3 linked regions of the Homo sapiens genome follow. The protein of the gene in region 3 interacts with the protein of the main gene of each other region in a pairwise test. Each region holds a gene or a part of one and is shown on either strand. Other genes may lie near its edges.

What was found. The genes of interacting proteins can lie anywhere in the genome.
Region 1: the proteins of SRSF3 (region 3) and SCAF11 interact in a two-hybrid assay, tested with the Homo sapiens proteins (one study listed by BioGRID).
Region 2: the proteins of SRSF3 (region 3) and CHD1 interact in a two-hybrid assay, tested with the Homo sapiens proteins (one study listed by BioGRID).

Annotation. Positions count from the first base shown.
Region 1 is NC_000012.12:45,987,569-45,995,578, forward strand, and holds the start of SCAF11 (protein SCAF11), read right to left. Parts: upstream 3,007-8,010; 5' UTR 2,785-3,006; intron 1-2,784. UniProt on the Homo sapiens protein: Plays a role in pre-mRNA alternative splicing by regulating spliceosome assembly.
Region 2 is NC_000005.10:98,926,002-98,933,046, forward strand, and holds the start of CHD1 (chromodomain-helicase-DNA-binding protein 1), read right to left. Parts: upstream 3,007-7,045; 5' UTR 2,538-3,006; intron 2,531-2,537; exon of another isoform or gene 2,239-2,530; intron 534-2,238; 5' UTR 386-533; coding exon 333-385; intron 1-332. UniProt on the Homo sapiens protein: ATP-dependent chromatin-remodeling factor which functions as substrate recognition component of the transcription regulatory histone acetylation (HAT) complex SAGA. Regulates polymerase II transcription.
Region 3 is NC_000006.12:36,597,362-36,604,361, reverse strand, and holds part of SRSF3 (serine/arginine-rich splicing factor 3), read right to left. Parts: intron 5,514-7,000; coding exon 5,379-5,513; intron 4,542-5,378; exon of another isoform or gene 4,086-4,541; intron 3,211-4,085; coding exon 3,172-3,210; intron 2,655-3,171; coding exon 2,568-2,654; intron 2,401-2,567; coding exon 2,373-2,400; 3' UTR 1-2,372. UniProt on the Homo sapiens protein: Splicing factor, which binds the consensus motif 5'-C[ACU][AU]C[ACU][AC]C-3' within pre-mRNA and promotes specific exons inclusion during alternative splicing.

The DNA of each region.
Region 1 (8,010 bases), on a different chromosome or scaffold from region 3:
TAGCATAAAAACAGATACAAAATATCGGGGGAAGGCTGTTGTTTTATACACAGTAGTTAGAGAAGACCACAACAGCGTAGGGGAAAGGAGATTGGAGAAAGGGTGAGGAGATGAAGTCAGAGAGGAAGAAGAGACTTAAATCATAGAGCCTTGTAGACCATAGGAGTATGGAATTTACTATGACTGAGAAGGGAAGCCATTTGAGAAAAGAAGTTACATGACCTGACATTTTATCAGGATCACTCTGGCTATGGAGTGTTAAAGACTGTAGATCAGCAAAGGTCACAGTGACTTTTTAGGAAGATATTTTTGAAAGCAAAATAGTGGTTGTGTTTTTACGTTATGTATTGAATTTTTATGTGTCTATGTACTAGGATTTCATACATTAAGTTCATAGACACAACTTAAAAAAATACAATGCAAAGATGAGTTTTGGGAATAGCAAGAGAATGATACTGGATATTTTAACTCTGGGCTCTACTCAGCACTACTAACAGTTATTACTGCTCAGAAGCAAGACAAGGTGCAAGGTTATTAACTTATTTTGGGGGACAGAGTATAATTAAAAATCTGGATTTTAAGTTTATTTCACTGGGCAAGGTAAGTCAAGGTACAATTTACATCTTAAAAGACAAAAGCAGGTGATAGCAGGGCTTGCTAAAGGGAAGTTACAATGAAAATTATTCTACAGTTGACTTTCTTTTTATTACTTTTATGCCTGCTACTCTCTTTAATTAAGGTGCTACAACTATCTCTGATATACTTTAAAAGTTCAGTATTAAGTTGATGGGTAGTATAGTACTGTATTTTCTGATTACTAAAAGATGTTACTGATGATGAATCAACAGTATCATGTAACTGCACTGATTCATCCTATCTCTGCTGAATAAAAGCACAGGTTTTCCAGAAAACTGTCTAAGCTCTAGTTGGTGCCAAAGGACGATAGAGAGCTAAGTAACTCCTGAAAAGTTTCGATCTTAACACACTAGCCCTATTACCACATGAAGGTATTAACAGAAAAAATTAAAAAATTATCCGTAAAATTTTCTCCATGACATGTTTTCTGGCAACATATTTAGAAACTTTAAATTTTCTTCTACAGTTTTCTTCCCCTTTATACTGAAGAATGTCTTTAAAGCATGAGTATACTTACAGTAAGCAAACATTCAAATTTTACCCCAGTGAAATCTTAAAATGTACTCAAACTCTCAGGCAAAAAGTTCACTATCTGAATGTGAAAAACTGAATGACTGTTAAAATATCTGCAAGCACCAAAAAATATTATAGCTAAAATGCAGCTACCCTAAGAACTGTTTTTAAAAAACTCACATTGCATAAAAAATATAAATTCAGATTATCCGATAGGATAATATAAAACAAAAGAAATCCAAAGACAGTTTCAAGATTTCATTTCTCTTGCTTAGTTAAAACAACAAAAACAAAAGGCCCATGAACTTTTTCTTGCATCTTTTAACCAAAATAGTGACATGATCAAGCCAACTGCCAAAGAAACAGGAAAGAGAAAGCAATTGTTTAGAAACAGACTTGATTACATGTCAAAATTTTAATACAATTACTAATAAAATACAAAAACCAACCGTTATTTTAAAATGTACTGCCCTGATATTCTGCTGCTGAGGTAGGTGGTGATATGTAGAAATTAATTTTTCTTTTAAAACGAAAAAATAATGCATTTATTAATATGCTTTTCCCAAAATTCGGGGAAAATTCCCAAATCGGAGAAAAAAATTTAACATCAGCATCTACTACACAAAGCATTAAAAACATTTTTCAGCAGTTTTGCTTAAGTATCTTAGGTCAGTGGTAGCATGTTAGCCAAAATGTAATCCAAAATGAATGAACAACAGTCAGCTGGTAGACACTGTATGTAATACAATACGGAAATATATTGGAAGTATTTCAAAATTCAACATTTGAATCCGTGAATGTCTAAATCAAGTACTCTAAATCAGGCGTCTACTTTTGAAACAATACTTCAAAATACGTGTTGGTGGCAAGACCGCCAGCCATCTGTAGGAAATCTTTTTAATGGTTCAAAATTCCTAGGTCTCAGAAGGGGCGACTGATTAGGCTAAATTTATATCTCCCGGCCCCGTAGTTGTCAGCCCAGGTAGCGAATTTAAAACACTGGGGGTGGATGAGTAGTTTGAAGTTCAGATCAAGGAGTGAAAAAGGCTGATGCTTAGAAGCGCCGGCTCTTCCCCATTCGCGCACTCGAGAGGTCACGGCGTAGTAAAGTTTGGTTTCACTAGCGGGCTTGGACGCTCGCGACCAAAGTCTCCCAAGAAAAGCCGACACCGCGGTCGGGAGCGCCCGGAAGCTCAGCAGGACACGTTTCCACTGCAGGGAGGAGGGTGTCTGTGGCGGTTCTGGCGTGGAGCCCCTTCCCCCCCCCCCGTAGGACCCTGCACCCGGACGGGGACAGGCTTCGCCAGCTAAGGCGGCGGGAGACGCGTAGGCCACAAGGAGGAAATGGGACAGAGTGCGACAGAGAGGCGGCGGCGGCCCAGGGCCGGGCCGAGCCTCCCTCGCGGGGCAGCGAGAGGGAAAGGGGCCCTCCCGGCCGCAGCCTCCCCCACTTCGAGAGGTAGCTCCAACTTTCCTCCCAGCGCACGACGTCGCACGGGCCGCGCGAGATTCCGAAACTTTGTCAGCCCTCGCGTCGCCCTAGGCCCGCTCCAGCGCTCTGCGCCGGCCGCTAACCCTCGTCTCTCCCAGACAGCTGCCCAAGCCCATCCACCCCGCGGGTCGACCAGTGTTTACCTCAGACCGAGGTCGAGGCGCTCGGTCCGGCCGCGGCCCCACAGTAGGTTCCCAGGTCCCAGTCACTCCGCTGCCAAGTTCCCCAACATGGACTCCTTCGTCCGCTTTGTGGTGTTACAGGGTCTCTAGGACACTGACTCCGCTGGCTCGGTCCGGAGGCGGCGGCGAAGCAGGGAGCGACCCAGGTTGCGCTGCTCCGCGCGGCTTAAGCCACCGCTACTCCCCCTTCCCCCGCCTTGTCTAGCCTCCTCCCTCCCCTCCCCTCCCTGCGCGTCTCCCTCCTCCTCCCTTCCCTCGCTGTCGGCGCGCTAAGGTGACGACGGCGGCAGCCGGACTCGCCACATTCTGCTTACTCGCTCGCTCTGGCCCTGAGTGCATGTTCGTAGTACCCAGTTGGGCCGCAGGGGGGCGCTGGCAAACTGCTGTTTGAGACCGAGAAGCGTGGTGGGTGGAGTCACGTCACGCGGCCTGTGAGCGGGAGGAAGGGCAGCTGCGCTGGAGGGGCCTTCTGGGAAACGTCCTTCCAGCACCGCCCTTCGCCCACACTGCGGATGGTGCGCATGCGCAGCGCGTGGACTTTGGCCTCTGCCCTCCTTTGGCAGTTTTACAGGCTGCGTCGCGGAGGACAATGAAAGAGGCTTTAAGGGAACTGGACAGGAAGGATTTTGCGCAGGGTGTGCTCCTTATCTTTATGGTAATCTGATATTGAAAAGAGTGTCCGCATGTTTGCGGTGGATTGAGTGTTCACCTGGCTGCGCTGCCCACCTGAAATGCAGCCTGTGGAGTGAAGAGTCGGCAATTTGGAAGCCCACCTTTCCTCCTTTCTGGTGGGCATTTTTTTAGATGCCAGGGGGAGAGCTTTCCCGCCTGACTCCCCGAGCCTAGGGGCTTTCCCATGTCTTAACCCCACATCACAAAATTAAATTTGGGCCAGGTGCGCGGTGGCTCACGCCGGTAATCCCAGCGCTTTGGGAGGCCGAGGCTGGCGGATCGCTTGAGCTCAGCAGTTCGAGACCAGCTTGAGCGACGTATTAAGATCTCGTTTCTACAAAAAATAAAATTAACCGGCCGTGGTGGCGCGCACCTGCGGTCCCAGCTCCTCGGGAAGATGAGGTGGGAGAATCGCTTGAACCCGGGAGGCGGAGGTTGCAGTGAGCCGAGATCGTTCCACTGCACTCCAGCCTGGGCGACAGAGCGAGACCCTGTCTCAAACAACAACAAAAACTTTATCATTATTTACTTAAAAGGCCTCCGCGTTGTGGTTAGATAGTGACGTGTGTGCCATCCTCCACTTTTTCCCCCGGCGGGTTGTTAAATGTTTTGTTTTACCTCGGAGGTATTTTGACTTTTTCAAAGTCACTGATTATTTAACCTCCTAGTTTCTCTTCTCGTCGACTGCAGCAAGCTTCCGGTTGCTCTGCCTGCCCTCAGTGTCCCCCATCTACCAGCTGACCTTCCAGTCCTCCCACCCACGCCCTTGTCCTGCTTGCGGCTCCCGCAGGACTAAGCTCTGCTCCCCGCGCGCGGCTCACCCAGGTCCCAGTCGCTTTCAGCCGCGCGCTCACACGTTTTCCTGTCGCCTGCCCCCGTTCTGTTCGCGCGTGCTGCGCTCTCCAGCCACCCTGACGCCTGCCCGGGATGAGTTTCCTCCCCACTTTGCCGCGGCCCCGCCGACCGACCGCTTCACTGCCGCCTTCCTGCATTCTCGCAGACTACGTTGCGGCGTCCCCTGCTCCCGCCCTGAGGACGTCGCTTTTCTGGCACTTTCATCCTATGCATTCTGTTGAGTCTGCTCACTGTCTCACACTGTGAGGATTGGGACAGTGTCTTATCACTTTCATAACAGCGTCTGGCACTTGCTGAAGGAACACATGAATGGCGGTCTTGTCGCTGTCAAAGTCTTTGGAGTTTTTCAGTGTACTGTTTTTGATATGGGGTTTGGGAATTTAGGTGGCTTTACTGTATTTGGGATATTTGAGGGGAAAATGAGCTAGAGGCGTTAAAATGCTTTCTTCTGATGGAACAACAAAATTCTTATGAAGGACCTTTCCCTGTCAAAATCAGAGCAAATAGTAAAGGATATATACTATTTGGATATAAAGAATGATTATAAAGGATGATTGTTAAGAGAAATAGTGAAAATTAGTGTGGAAAGCTATAACCAGATCAACATTTATGAGCCATCCAACAGAATAAGGGTGTAGCTTTTTTATGTATACAATCTCTAGGATTCACTCTAGAGAGTGTAACTCCTGATATGGACTCCTGGTGCAACATGCTTCTGTGTATGTTTTATATTTTAAAAAATCTATATATATTTAAAATCTAAATATATTTTTAAAAATCTCAGTTTTGTTTTAGGAAAGTGTTTTTTCTCAAAATTTAAGCCCAAATGATAAAATCTGCCAAATAGAAAACTATTTTAAATTGATAATAACAGTATAGTTTCATCAAAACTAAAAATACCAGATCTTTTGATGTATTTGTTTCCTAGCAGAGAATTAAGTTTTCACGTTCTTACTGTTGGCCTCCTAGATATCATGTGAGCATGTCTTAAGGAAAAATGCTCTTAATGCCACTGTGGTTTCTACCTTCATGTGCAAATAGAAGAGAGTGGTGGTTTGTAATAGGCCATTCTTTCCAGAGAAAAGTTCATGTGTATTTCTGTATATGCAGCATCCTCCTTATTATGTTTGGATGTAAAGATTTATTATTCTCTCTGATGTTTTCATATTTTTTAAATTTACAATATAATAAAGAGGTACAGAGTTCTAAATCAATAAAAGATGGGCTATAAAATGGAGGAGTAAAGTTGATATATGAACCATCATTGTCAACATTTTAGATTTGATTTTAACTGTAAAAAGCACAAATGATATGCATCATAAAACAGCCTTAAACTGAATGTCCACTTGGTGTGTTGCACTTTACCAGGCACTTAAAATATCAGTCCTGTCACATAGCAACAGAAACCCACAGTGGCACGTTTAAAAATGGGTAATCAACGTATTGATTTTGATGGAGCTTTTTCAGAAATAACTGCTATTTTAATTTAACTTATAAATAGAATACAATATCAAGTTCAAATTAAGGGAGGAAATCATGCTGTAAATATACTGGATTGAAAAACATGGTTCTGGCCAGGCATGGTGGCTCATGCTTGTAATTCCAGCACTTTGGGAGGCTGAGGTGGTTGGATCACTTAAGGTCAGGAGTTCGAGACCAGACTGGCCAACATGGTGAAACCCCATCTCTACTGAAAATACAAAAATTAGCCCGCATGGTGGCATGTGCCTGTAATCCCAGCTACTAGCTACTCAGGAGGCTGAGGCAGGAGAATCACTTGAACCTGGGAGGCGGAGGTTGCAGTGAGCCGAGATGGCGCTACTGCACTCCAGCCTGGGTGACAGAGTAAGACTCCATCTCAAAAAAAAAAAAAAAGAAAAAGAAAAAAAAGAAAAACATGGTTCTAATACTGTCACTTAACACCTTTTCAGTTTTGAATAAATCACCTAACTTTTTGGTCTTTAGTTTCTATAAGAGGACATTTTTATTTTAATGATCTCTGGCATTTTTATGGCAATAAAAATGTGTGAATTCAAAGGACATACTGTCTGAGCAACATAGTGAGACCTAGTTTCTACTAAAAATAAAATTAAAAAAATGACCAGCTGTGGTGGCGTGCACTGGAAGGATTGCTTGAGCCTGGGAGGTCAGGGATGCAGTGAGCTGTGATCACACCACCACACTCCAGCCTGGGTGACAGAGCGAGACCCTGTCTCAACAAAAAGGGGTGATGTAAATTTTAAAATTCATGTAAGGAAAACATGACCAAATATACAATATCCACGTGAGGAAAAAATAGTTTGCAGGAATTTTTTTAAAAACCAGTGGTGGCTGGGCATGGTGGCACACACCTGTAGTCCATCTACTTGGGAGGCTGAGGTGGGAGAATCGTTTGAGCCCAGGAGGTTGAGGCTGCAGTGAACCATGATCATGCCACCTCACTCCAGGCTGGGCAACAGACTAAGACCCTGTCGCCAATAATAATAATAAGAATAGTTATTTCATGTCACAACTATGAAGTATTTTAATCAGGATGATACTATCCAATTATTTTCCATGTGGAATTAAATTTATTTCAGCAACAATTAATTGGACATCTATTTGGGAGGTGCTTTGAGCTTGTATATAAATGAATACAGTGTCTCACAGACAGTATAGTGGTTTCAAATATGTACAAAGACAAAGTTGCATTCCTTGAAAGAAAATAGAAAACAAAAAACAAAGGAAGAATATAAATATAAAAAGAATATAAAATAATAAAAACAAAGCCTGGGGAGGGAGATGGAATAAAAGAAGGAGAGAATAGAAAGGAAACTGTGATGATTAATTTTAGATGTCAACTTGACTGGATTAGGAATACCTAGAGAACTGGTAAAACATTATTTTGGGGTATGTCAGTGAGGGTGTTTACAGAGGAGATTGGCATGTGAGTCTGAGTGGACTACAAGGGGAGGATCCGCCCTCAAAGTGGGCAGGCACTATCCAATCAGCTGGGAGCCTGGGTAGAACAAAAACAGTCTCTGTCTTCTGGAACTGGGATACACTCTTCTCCTGGCCGTGGACATCAAAATACCAAGCTCTCTGGCCTTTGGATTCTAGTGCTTAACACCAGCACCCCTGCCATCAGGTCTTCAGACTTGGACTGAACCACACTCCCAGCATACCAGCATCTCCAGCTTGCAAATAGCCTGTTGTGGGACTTGTTAGCCTCCATAATCACATGAGCCAATTCCCCTAATAAAGCCCCCCTCATGTGTCTATATATCCTATTAGTTCTTTTTGCCTCATATCTAAAAATAGTTCAAATTCTAAGACTACTTCTTCATTTCAGTTTATATTTACTCTTTTTAAAGGTAATAAGCATTCATTTTAACAATTTAAATAACACAGAAGTATGTAAAATATACTCAGAAGTAAATAAAGAAAAAGACTGTTTTCTTCTCCGTATCCCAGTCCTAGACAAAACCAATGTTAAAGATTGAAGTTTCTCTCAATACTTATTCTAATGTTTTAAAACACTTGGAAGTTTTCATTTGTATATTTACAAATAATCACGCCATATATATTTTTCTTCAACTCTTTCTAACTCAGCAGTTAATTATAAATAGCTCATTCTTTCAACTAGCTGCATAATATTATGTAGAATTAATGTACCATAAT
Region 2 (7,045 bases), on a different chromosome or scaffold from region 3:
AAATTTCACTAACAGTCAAAACAATTTAAATCTATTATACATGCTCCAGCTTAATTATTAGCTCAAATATAAACTTCCAAATAGATTTAAGTAAACAAAAACTTTCTATATTTAAGATCTACTGTGTATCTGAATGAAAAATATAATTAAAACCTGTATTATGAAAAAAGGTTCGTATATCAGAATTTTTTTAGTATTTGGATAGCTAAGAGGAAAACCTGAAAACTCTGCTACCTATGAGGAAAACTAAATAACAACAATAACAATAAAGAAAAAAGTCAAGTTTTCAACTCTCTTCATAGTAAACAATTGATAACAAAGTGCTTACTTACCTTGATTCTCCACTACTGTTTCTAACACTTTCTTCATCACTGTGTCCATTCATTGTAAATTATTATCAAGAAGTTTTAAAGTAAAATATAAATCTTCCCAGTTTAAAAGATGAATATAAATACTGACTCCTTGAATATAAAAATTCACAGATGAATTTTCTTCAACAGTCACAGGTTTTCTGGGACTCTCCTTTGATTCACCTAAAGAAAATATATTAATAAATTAACAAAATTTCCTGCAGAAAAAAGGTAAATTAAGCCCTGTCTAAAACGTATAAATCTACGTAGGCCAATTAGACTACAGCTGTTAAGGAAGAAGTGGGGGCCTTTTATTAAATACTTAAAATATCTAGACTTGTAATAACTACACTCCTGACTGCTAACTAGAATTTAGTATGCTACTGCTAATATACTTCGGACAGAAAAAATTAAAATATTTGTGGAGTGAAAGGATTTTTAGAGACTAACTGCAACTAACAATGTTTTTATAGACTCCTAAAGCAAGGTGATACGATGTAACATATGCATACATCCCAAGAGTAGATAACGGAGTCTTATTAGATAACTTGGTCGAATAAATGAAGTGGGGGGGGGGGTGGGAGGAGGTTACCTTTAATCAAGCCCTCACTCCTATCACCAAGAACTTCATACACTTGAGTGAGAAAGTTCTGAAAACGCTCCCATGGGAGGAACAGGCAAATAAAAGATACCATATACTCTCAACAAAAATGCATAGCTCAAAATAAATGTGTTATTTAACAGGTAAACGGATAGTGGGATGATAACATTTAAATAATACTTAACCAGTTTGCACTTGGTTTTTATTTTGTGAAAAAAATTGAAAAGGTAATAGAATATACACTATATCTGATTTTTTACGTAAAAAATTTGGGGCAAGAATAATGAACCAAGACACACCATTTCCACCTTTAAAGATTTCAGTACAACACTGAAGAATCACCTACAAGCCATCCACGAATAAACAAAGGAGATCTCTGGCAGGGGAGGGAGAGGAAGAAGCGGGGGAAGGAGACGTCAGATCCTTCCCCAGCCAGAAAGTACCGAGACAGCCAACTGAGAGCAGAGCTGTCCTCCGACCTCAGCAAAGAGAATTCACTCCTACGATTATTTCCATTCCACAAGAGAGGGAGGGAAACAGATTGTTACCAACTCAATGATAGCAAAGTCTGCATCTGGATCAGGATGTTAATTCTCTAGACTACTGTCCAGTAGACTCTGCAAGAACAGGTTATCTAAAAAGTAACCGTTCTACTCAACATTTATTCCTAATGTTAAATATTAATCTCAACCCTAGTCAAAGTGCCTTACTGAACAATTAAGTCTTAAAAAATCTAAGTATGTTAACAAACTGCCTTTCCCGTTTCTTCCTTTAAAAAGTTCACTCCCCTTTTCGTTCTTTCCTTTTCACCTTCCTTTCGTCCCTCAAAATGGCTTTCTCTGTACATTTTAACTTCCTTTCCCCTCCATCTCCCTTATCCGAATAAGTCCTCTGAGACCCTTTTCACAACCCTGAGTTCTGAAGCTCCAAGCGCACACAGCGCTGTGTCCTCTCAAGCGTCTCCACAATGACTACCCTAAGTTATTAAACCTCTTCAATCCTCTGTCTTTTAGCAGTTGCTTTGCTCCTGCTAAGTTTTTAAAGCGGCACTCGAAAGAGGTTTGGAAACCATCCTCACTCATCCATCCAGCGCGCTCCAATCAGCCTCCCTCGCGGACCTGCCCCCCTCTCCCAGGGCCTCCATCCCGGTCCAGGAGTCCCTCTTCCCGCCTCAAACTTCCCGCAGACCCGCCCCGCGCCCTCCCAGGCTCGCCCGAGCCGCCGCCCCCTCCCCCTCCCGCCGCTCCCCACGTGCTGGGAGCCCGGGTCGCGGCAGGACCCACGCACCGGCTAAGTGCTAGCCATTCGCGGGTCTCCTCTCGCGGCCCGGTCGGCACCAAGCCGAAGAGGCCGGGGCAGGGCCGCCGGGCCGGCGCAAGGATGCGTTCTGCGGCCCCGGCCTGTACTCGCCGCTCACACGCCCCCTGCGCGCCAGGCCCGTACACCGCCACCGGCACTCACAGAGCCACCCGGCCTTCACCCGGCCGCTGGGCCGCCGCCTGGGCACCGCGCCGCGCCCGCCCTCCGCCCGGCCGGTTCCTGTCCTCTCCGCCACATCCTGACCCGCCCGCCGCCCCCTTTCTTACCGGCGGGCTTGGCGGGGCGGAGGGAGCCGACTCGGGTGGACGGCCTCCCCCGCGCCCAGGCCCGGGATCTCCGCCGCCCAGTCCTAGGGCTCCGGCGTCTCGGGGTAAGCAAGAGTCCGTGCGGGGGAGGGGGAAGGGGACAGACGCGGAGGGGAAGGGGAAGCCCCGGTCCGCAGCACCAACGCGCGATCCCCTGCGGAGTGGAGCTAACAATTCATTATTGAAGCACCAAGGGCGAGGGCAGCAAGAGCTATAAGTAACCAGTCGTCGCCGCCGCCGCCGCCGCCGTCGCGCGCGCGCTCCCGCTCCCTCCGCTTATCTGCCCCCGGCAGCCGCCATGACGCCGAGAAAGCAAGCGAGCGCAACCGTCTCCGTCGTAGCCGCCGCCGCCACCGAGGTCGCCGTCGCCTCCGCCTCCCGCGCGACGTAAGCGCCTCTGCTCACTCCCCTTCCCGACAGAGCGCGAGGCGGGCGGGCGCGCGCACGCCGAAGCCTTTCTGCTCGCGCGCGGGAGGCGGGAGGGACTACGTTGAAGGGTCGTGGGCGTAGGAAAAAAGCGATTGGTGCTGGGGCGGGGCGGGGGGGGCGAGTGCGCGCACGCGCACGAATGGGAGTGCGCACGGCGGATGCGCAGAGGCTGTCGGACTCTGACTGCGCGGAGACCGCTGGACTCTGGTCGCGGCCTTAGTCCGCTGATCCTCGCTTGGGTGCCCGCCCTTAGCGGCCCGGCGTTGAATTCCGGGAAGTGGGAGCTTCAGGCTCGCTCCGTGCGGGTATGGGCGCTAATGTCACTTGGGATGGTTGCGCAAGGACATCGCGGCGGACACTGACAAGGAACCGGGGAGGAACGGGGGTGGGGAGAGACTGCGATGGGACTCGGGAAGCCGGGAAGGGCCGCGCTGAATAAGCCTAAGGGGCCGGGTCGCAAGGAGTGTCGGGTAGCACAGGCCTCGGCTCAGTCGGAGCGCCAGGCCTCAGGGTCCGGGCGGGGGCTGCTGCGTCACACCAGGCAGCCTGGGAACGCAACTGTTGGGCAACCGTGGTGGCCTCTCGCCACCTCTTACGCTTGGGCGATCTGCGATTGACGCATCCTGGGAGCTGATGTCCCGCACGGGCGGGGCGCCGGAGGAGGAGAGAAAATAGAGACCCGGTTGTTGACAGCCTGTGATGCCGCTTGATTCATGTGTGGGTGGCCTGGTTTAGAAATGTACCACCCTTCCTTTCTAGGTTCCTCCCCGGAGGGCGGGGTGACGGGTGCGGCGCCGAATCGCAACAAAAAACGCTGCTCGAGGGATGTTAGTAACTGTCTCAGCTTAAGTTGCTGCCTTTTAGCTTACAGTTTGTATCGTAACTGTAATTGTGGATCTTAGTTAAATCCCTTCAGTGTGTTGGAAACATATTTTTAAGTGTATTTTTGAAACATACTTAGAGCATTTTGAAATGCTTTTTTGAAAGCGTTTTTTAAATCAAAATTCTGTTACACTTTATTTTTTTCAGTCTGCAGATGAACTTGACTCACTCAAGGTTAATGATTTTTGTTTTTTATTTATGTTTGTAGAGGCGGGGTTTTGTCATGTTGCTAGGTTGGTGTTGAACTCCTGAGCTCGAGCGATCCACCTGCCACTGCCTTCCAAAGTGCTGGAATTACAGGCGTGAGCCACGGCGCCCGGTGGCCGAGGTTAATAATAATTAAAAGTTTCTAATCCCATTGTTCAGTTATTTGATTTGGTGTAAAGGCGCACTTTCCAAGTCAGATGAGTTTGTGGTAACATACATTCCCCAAATAATTATTTTTCCCTTGTGGGAAATATTCCAGTTTTAGGCTACCAGCTGTTTAAACAGTTTGGTTCAAATCCTTCAAAAAAATCTCAAAACATAACTCCACATATGTATTTACTACATATTGAAGGGTGTATTCACTTGGAGAAGTAGGAGAAAGCAAACAGATGCCAATGGCCTTTTTGAAAACATGTATCTATCAGCAATAATTGAATAGCAAAACGAAGTGGAACACTACCATCCTTTGCAATATTAGATAGTTTTAATACTGGGTTGTGAGGAATGAAAAGATCATACAAATCGTCATTTCTGAAGTCATTTCTGAAGTCGTCATTTCTGAACTGAGTGCTAATTTTTCATATTAAGCTTTATGTTAATATCCTTAATGAGAGGAACTTCCTGTGCCCGTAATTTCTCCAGAGAAACTATTAACATACACAGAATGTTGTAATCAGAAGTATAGTTCAGTTAATAAAGTCCTCAATTACAACTCTGACATTTTGTCATTGTCTTATGAAAAGAATTACTGTATATACAGTCTATTTTACGTTTTCCGGAAGCACGTCAGGCAGGTTTTTTGTTTTTTTACTACTAATTGTGCCATTGAATATGCTATTCTGTCGTATTGTGCCATCAAACATGCTATTCGAAAAAAGATCTTGCCCAATTTGTAATAAAATATTGAACATTGGAGATTTAGATTTCGAGTAAAATCATACTTTATTGCTTTGCAGAAGTACACAGTAGGTGGAAAATTGCAACAATCTTGCCAGTTCATTTTTTAAAAAGCGTGTAGGTAATCCAAAGATACCTTTTTGATGATTTGTTATCAACATAGTTAAATTTGCAGTGTCACTTTATTTGAATAAACTAGCTTTATCTCTACTTAGTGGTACTAAAACAATAGCCAAACAGTTGATAATCTCAACACATGACTAACGAAAAATTCCACATAATTAACATTAACCAGGAGGTTTTTGTTACTATTTAATTTCTCATTTTTAAAATTTCATATTCTTTGGAAAGAATATTACTTTTCCGGAATCTAAGACAGCATTTTGTGGGTCCTTAATTGTGATATGCTTTACTAGGTAAAGTACTAAATGGGTATCCTTAGGTGGGGATAGGCTGGGAACCACATATCCAGAATTGTGAAATATATAACATAAACAGGATAACTTGCTCCTTTGTTAGCTTTTTGGATGCCAGGGTTAAGATTTTAATTCCATAATTATGTCCTTGTTGCCTGGAGGATTTGCATATGAGAAACCACAAAAACAATCGGGACATTATTAAAATACCCTAGAATCTCAACCTGTGACAGTATTTCCCATGTCCTTGCAAAACCAGAGGAAGTCTTTCCAATATGATTCTTAAATTTACAAAGTCCTCTGAATAGAAACCATGAAATCCTAAGTCATCTTCTAGTGAAGATTTGCTGTACATTTTCTGTTTTCCTAATAAGAAATTAGAGGAGTTTAGTTCCCAGTGTTGGGCAAGGGATAGGACTCAGTCACCTGGAAAGTTCTTTTGTAACTACACGTGCCTGACACTCCTATTCTTCCCCTCTGCTGATATGCAGAATTTCTAGGTTCTAGGTAGTATTTGGGAAGTTTCCCAGATTATTCTGATATCTACCAGCGGCTCATCCACCTTCTTTATGGTCACTGTATTTGGGGATTTTGAATGATAAATTCTTGAATCACTAAAAGCTAAATTTCAAACAGAAAATTGTTAGAGATGATACTAAGAGGCAAGTATGTATAAAATCTAATAGGCATTGAAGAAGATACAAAGATTCCATCCTCTACTGAAAAATTAAGTGTGCACGCAGAGTAAGAAAGAAGGTTAAGTAGCCAACCTCAAAAATATTTAAAAATTATTGCATTGATGCTGTATCACTCATTTCCTTGCCCAGATTCTTTTTTTTTTTTTTTTTTTTTGAGACAGAGTCTCACTTTGTCACCCAGGCTGGAGTGCAGTGGTGCTATCTCATTTCACTGCAATCTCCGCTTTCTGGGTTCAAGTGATTCTCATGCCTCAGCCTTCCAAGTAGCTGGGACTACAGGCACGCGCCACCACACCCAGCTAATTTTGTGTACTTTTAGTAGAGACTGGGTTTCACCATGTTGGCAAGGCTGGTGTCAAACTCCTGACCTCAGGTGATCTGCCTGCTTCAGCCTCCCAAAGTGCTGGGATTACAGGTGTGAGCCACCATGCCCAGCCCTTGCCCAGATTCTTTATTCACTGCTGTCCAAATACTGTTGGTCCTCTGTACCTGCAGGGATTTGCAGGTACAGAGGCTCAACTATAAGGGACTTGAGCATCCCCAGGTTTTGGTAAATGGGGGTCCTGGAACTAATTCTCTGCAGATACTGAGGGACAAACGGTACCACTCATTTTAATGCAGAAATTTTGTATTCATCCTTTCTTTTTAACTCCCACTACCGGGCTTAGTTTAGGCCTCTATTTTCTCTATCTTTCCCTTCAGCTTATCCTTTAGGTTTCCTTCAAACTTGAAATCTAACTAAATCAGTCCCCTGTTATATACCACATATATTTGTAAACTAAACATATATGAAGATGTATGTACATATCATATATTCCTAGTATTTTAGTTACTTAATTTTTTCACAGACTAATCTCAGTATTGCCTCTCATCATTCCTAATGGACACTTGGTACTCTAGACACTTCTTCAGGTCACTGGAAAGGTATCTCTCATTGTAA
Region 3 (7,000 bases):
AAGTGCTAGGAATTACAAGTGTGAGCCACCACATCCAGCCAGTGTCTTTGAAAACAATCAAATATAATCCTTAATGTTTCTTTACATTGTCATCAAGTATTAGTAACAGTGACTTCTAGTGAACACCTTGATCCTTAAACCACAGGTCTAAGTTCAGTTTTGTGATTCCTTTCATTTTTACACTCAACCCTGAATATGGACAAGACCGGTTAGTGTGACCTGTTATTTTAGGAATTACAACTTTAAAAATTCCTAATAGCCACAATCTAAATGTGCAATTCAAAGCTTTTAACAATTTCCATGTTCTAAAGTTTCTAAGAGTCTTGAGGTTATGCTAGGGCTCCTGGTTAAAGTAACTGCCAACTGGGACTGTATGTCACCTAAGTCAGGATAACTCCCTGGTGAAGTTACTTTTATTTCAGGTTCTGTATTATTTCTCTTAGCCATATTATACCCGTAACTGTCCTTTTTACAGAAACCCTTCCAACTTAAGAGCCTGCAAGGAAGTCATATACTGCCCAAAAATGCCCACATAAGTTGTCCATTTATAAAAAGCAATGTAATTGACATATTGCATGGCTTCCGTAACTTCTTAGCTATCTTGGCTTGTTCCTAACAGGAACAGGTTGTAGGCTATGTGAGAATACTAAAGACAAAATGCCCAATGCCAGAGCTCTCAGTAAATAAACAGGCTGTCTGAAAAGTGTCTTTCTTGAACATGCTTAACTTTAAGGCTGAACCTTCCTGACACCAATTCTCCCAAGATTTGTGTAAAAGGTGGAAATAAATAATTTGTTTAGGAACTGTATCTTAATGTATCCATTTAGCTTGAACTCTTAATGCAATGACTTATCTTTCATATTTAAGACAGTCAATACCGCATAATCCAAAACTATCTTAAGAGCATATTTAAGGAAACTAAGCCACAAGACTGTTGCATTATGATTTAATCTAATTGCACAAAAATTTGAAATTACAACACCTGCCATTTTCTAAGAGGAAGGTTATGCATGCCTCCATATTCAATTCTGCACTGTTACATTTGAACCATATTGTGAACTTTTACATCATGATGGATCAGCTTAGAATTCCCATGCAACACCTCAAATTATAAAATGGAAGCAATTTTTAGACCTGTGGAAAGTTTTCATGCTAAAGATAAAAGCCATTTGTTAATGGGCAACTTACTTTGTGTTTAAGAACCAGGTTGCTGCTATACTTTAAAATGTTGGTCACTAAATATTATGGACCCTGAACTGGCTTCTATGCCTAAAAAAAAAAAAAATGGGTTAACTATCACTTAGGTGACATCTATATTTCCTTCACTTCAGAAGACTAATCCATAGTGCCTCTCAGCTGTTTCTTATAAAATAAGAATCGTGTAACCAACTGCTTCCCATGGGATAAGAACAATGGTAACAGTGGGTTCAACTGACTATACACAATTATGCTAATATTTTATTAATTCAAAAGCACTTTACAAGAAAATATAAGTATGGCTTCCAATAGGAATGTTATACCTGGACTTGGTACCAAGCTCACAGATTTGAGTTTGCAAGGAAAAACAGGCTTTCAAGTTAAAGAACAATTTGTAACCAAAACTTTAATCCCAAGGATTCTCACAAAACATATTACAAATGACAGCATGAAAAAAAAATCTTGCACAGTAACTCAAAGTTCGGCTCTACAATGTACCCTTAAACTGGCAGGACATTTTTGAAATCACAAATTTGCACATAAAGAATGTCACGAACAGCCATGTATCCATATACAGCAATCAAATAAGGAACTTATGACCTAAAGCAAAGGTAAACTTTCTTGAAACTTAACATTCTATACCAACTAGGCAACCTCTGCCCAGGATGAGAGTTGGATTTTTCAAAAACCTCTAATTTAATAGTGCAGCATTTCGTTTTCCCTGATGGCCTGTGTTTCACAGCAGTTTTTAAAGACTGCTTGTTCAACTATAGCTGCAGCCTATATCCCAGCTATGGAAAAAAAAGTAAATCTTAGTTCAATTTTTGCCAGTTGTTTCTGTATTTAAATTTAAAAAAAAACACACTTCCGCTGGGCAGGTTTAGAGGTTTATTATCAGTCTGTGCATAACTAAAAGTTCAAAGCAAATTCAATTTTGCTTAAGGGAACATTGTAAAGTAACAATTCTTGGTATTACATGCCTCGTATGATCCATTTCAAACCATAGAGAATTACACCTTTGTGTCACTGTTTCAAGAGACAAACAGATTTGAACAGCTAAAACATCTTAAAAATGCACCAAGCTTATGAAGTCTCAAACAAAACTTGAATTTTCTGTACATACTCCTGTCAAATGAAGTAATTTCCTGTACACCACTTCTCTTGCAAACTGTCTTCTATTTCCTTTCATTTGACCTAGATCGACTAAAAAAAAAAAAAAAAAAAGAAAACAAAACATTACATCTGTAACTTGGTGACACTTTAGTGACATATCGAAATAGAACTTTAAGGTAAAAAATTTATGGCTTAGAAGACAGGCCTTAGCATACTATGTATGCAAAGTCTTAAATACAAGTTATCAAAGATCTTACCTACGAGACCTAGAGAAGGATCGGGACGGCTTGTGATTTCTCTCCCGAGACAGCGATCTCTCTCTTCTCCTATCTCTAGAAAGGGACCTAAACAAGCAAAAAAACATTAGGACCAATGAGGTATGATAAAATTATACATAAATATTTTCTTGATCTGGCATGGTGACTCATGCCAATAATTCCAATATTTTGGGAGGCAGAGGCAGGAGGCTCACTTGAAGCCAAGAGTTTGAGAACAGATTGGACAACAAAGTGAGATCCCATCTCCACAAAAAATAAATTAGCCAGGTATGGCAGTACTTGCCTGTAGTCCAAGCTACTCAGGAGGCTGAAGAGGGAGGATCACTCCAAGGCCAGGAGTTAAAGGCTACAGTGAGCTATAATCACACCACTGCACTCCAGCCTGGGTGACAGATCCTTTTTTAAAAAATTAAATACTTTCTAAAAAGCCTTTGAAAACTCAAAGAAAGCTGACTCATCCTTACAACTTGATTCACTATTAAAGCCAAGGTTTATTCCCATTAACTAAGCCACCTGGAAAAGTTTAGGAATAGCAGAAACACTGCCATTTCTAAGAACGTAGCCAAAAAAGGTAGTCATTTACCTGCTCCGGCTGCGAGAGAAGCTTCTCCTTCTTGGAGATCTAAAAGCAGAAACAGGAAAATTAGGCTCATCATCAATTAGTATTTATGGCGTGAGGCATTTCCCAACTTTTCAATCTCACTGTTGGGCCCAGTGAATGTGCCGAAGAACTGGCACCCATCGTCCAAAAAAAAAAAAAAAAAAAAAAAAAGAAAAAAAAGAAAAGAAAAAAAAGGCACAGAAGGATTAAGAAACAAAAAGCTCAAGTGAAAAGCAGGTATTCCAACCATGGATTCACTTTAACAAAGAATGCTTCACAGCAGATCTGTCCAATGCAAAACTTCATGTCAAACTAACTTCACTACCCAAACACCACACCAAAATATAGTCCCACAAGTAGTTCCAAAAACAGTACCATAAACCAGTATTTGGAACCCATGCAAACCTGTAAGTCCATGACAAGACTTAGGTACCAGGTGGATAGTGTAATTTTGTGAAAACGCGGTAGGTGTAAATATTGATGCCATTAAGTGCTACATTAGAACTGCATTTGTGATCGTCACATTTAAGAGTGTGTTTAGGCTTACCAAAATTACCTTAGCTTGGCCCACACTTCAACCCCAAAATTTTAAATTTTGAAACTGTTAGTAAAACCATTTAAAGGTGATAGGATTCAACAAATTTTTGCCAGAAAAGCTAATCTGTTAGAGATATTAAAATTTTTAGTTTGGCATCTTGCACATGCAAATAAGTTTCACTTGAAGGCCTAGTTACATTACGAGTTCCCTATCACCCTTAAAAGTTTTTCAAGCAATATATATGTACGTTACCATTCAATTATGCACAGCCAGCCTTTGATCCAGAAAAAAGAATTACTTTAAGCCGCTTACTCCTTATTTTAACCAGCAGTAAACTGTATAAGCAGGAAAAACTTACTAGTTTTGGGTTTCAACAAGCTAGAAATGGTGAGGTGAGGCTGCCGGACTGACGGCCAGGAAGAATTTGCTGAAAAGGTTTTGCCAGATGTTGCGTTGGATTTAGTTGGTTGGCGAAGGGGGTGTTGTGGATTTTTCCTGCTTTTTTGTTAGCCGAAGGCTGCTGCTGTAGTTGTTGTGAAGACATTTGGTAAATAAACAGCTGAGCTGATTGGCCAGGAATGTGTGGGCGGTCGAGGTGGCTGCTGCCGATTTGGTTAAGGTTGGAGAGAAGGCTGAGAGAAAACAGCATGCTCGGGAACCAAAGGGCGGTGCAACCTGACGACTGGCCAGCCTGGGTCATGTGAAACGACACCAGCCAAGCTGAATGGGGCGCGCTGGTCACATGACGCTGAAAGGGCTAGTTGACTGGCTAATGCAGATTCAGAGGGTGGTGAGAAGAGACATGATGGTGACTCTGTAACGGGGTTCATTTTTATTAATAGATGGACCAAAAAGCACAAAAAAAATGAAAAACAAGCCATCAGTACAACCATCTATTAGCTAACAAATACTCTTTATTATGATGGGCAACAGTGTGCTGTTGTTTTTCAAAATAGCAAAAGGGGCAAGATTTTGAACTCCTGTCTCCTAGAAGGACTCCACTCACCTGTAAGAGGTAAATTTAGTCCTATAGAAACTATTTTGGAGGTCTGAGGAGATGTGGAGTTAGCACCCAGACAATACTGCCTGGTCCAAGAATGATGCCATTTTCAATTATAAAAAAACTGAATTTTCTCCTATTTGGGATTGAAGAACAGATGACTGGGATTACTTCTTTTTTAGCCCCCTTTATTGGTCAGTGACTTAAGTTAGTCTCAGAATGATTTCTACTTTACCAGTTGTAACATTAAAACAGCTGCCTGTTTGATAAATATTACAATTGTGCTAATAGTAGAAAACACAAATTTGTGAAGAGCTAGAGTTGAATGTAATGTTTGTCATTATGGAGCCAAGAAATGGAAAAAGGCCTAAACTGAAGTATAAGGGAAGATTTGGAAAGATGCAACTAGAAAGATGAACTAGAAGACAGATCCAAGATAGAAGTTACTGACTACCAACATGAACAGTGACCTAAAGACAAAAGCCAACACTCAGCACAACTCACATACCCCAAATTACACCCAACAAATGTTTCACAGAAACCTCCGATTCTTCCAAAGTTTAAAACCCACCAACAAACTTAAGAGAAATACCTGCTCCTACTAGCTACTCCATTACACCAATACCTCTTAACAAGCTTTCTCTCAAGTACCTGCGACGAGGTGGAGGACTCCTCCTACGATAATCATCTCGAGGGCGACGACCCCAAGAGGGAGGTGGGCCACGATTTCTACTTCTTTTTTCACCATTCGACAGTTCCACTCTTACACGGCAGCCACATAGTGTTCTGAGGGGGCAAAGATATTAAACTTAAAACAGCCTGACTTTCTGACATGCGTATTAAAGCCAAAAGTACTCTCAGTTGGCTATTCTGCAAAGAACACACCTAAGTGTCTGTGCAATTTAACATCAAATTTCTAGCTCCCTTATTTTTACTAATATAAAATGAGCTTTGGCCAGGCACGGTGGTACACGCCTGTAATCCCAACACTTTATGAGGCCGAGGCAGGCGGATCACAAGGTCAAGAGTTCGACACTATCTTGGCCAACGTGGTGAAACCCTCGCTCTACTAAAAATACAAAAAATAGCCAGGTGTGGTGGTACATGCCTGTAATCCCAGCTACTCAGGCGGCTGAGGCAGGAGAATCACTTGAACCCAGTAGGCAGAGGTTACAACGAGCCAAGATCACACCATTGCACTCCAGCCTGGGGGACAGAGCAAGACTCTGTCTTGAAAAATAAAATAAGCTTGTTTCCCAGTTTCAAATTAAAATTTCAATTAATTTCAAATTAAACAAATAGGATTTTCTAAAGTACCAATTCACAAGGAAGTCAAATTCTATTTTATCACCTAATTGTTAGAGCCAGTCTGATTACTGAGCTCAATGTTAATTTGTTAACAGTTGCAATTTAAGTGTGAAGATCCATTTATCCTTGAAAAACAAGTTCTCCTGTATCTTCATTATGATTTCTTCCCTTGAAGTCCCTGCACTTATTTCAGTTATTTACCAGGCTGTATTTATTGGTCTCCCCCTGCCCCACTCCAAGTAAAAAATCAGTTCAAGACAAGACAGAACCATTTTGGCCATTTTACAGCACCCTCTCCCCTCAACAGTCAGCACAGAAGAAATTATAGCTGTGGCCAGGTGAGGTGGCTCATGCCTGTAATCCCAGCACTCAGAGAGGCTGAGGCAGGAGGATGGCTTGAGCCCAGGAGCTTGAGGCCAGCCTGGGCAACACAGACTGTCGTCTGTATTATTTTTTAAATAATAAATATACATTTTTTTAAAAAAAGAAATTATAGCTCACAGTAGTAAAAAAAAAAAAAAAAGACCATTATTCCTCACCCTTAATACAACCAGTCATTAAATTTAGATAAGCTATCATATTTGAAGAGTGACTGGGAAGAGGTGGGCCCTGGAAAACTTTACTACAACCTGCTTGAATTGACCAACCTTTCATGCAGCTTTACAGTGAACACTCAGCTCCTTTTTCCCATTATACTTCCAAATATGAGGAAAGGGGGGTGGGGGCATGGAGGTCAATACTCAGGCCTTACTCAGCCAGCTAACAGGACACTATTAACACAAAGGGAAATAGTAAGTGATTCACTTTCTGGAGTATTTCAAACACATAAAAGTAAAGGTACAACCAACCCATGTAACCATTTTGTAAACAATTTTTTAAACAAGGATCAGTTCACAACTACTCTTAAAAATATTTGATCCTGGCTGGGCACAGTGGCTCCCACCTGTAATTCCAGCACTTTGGGA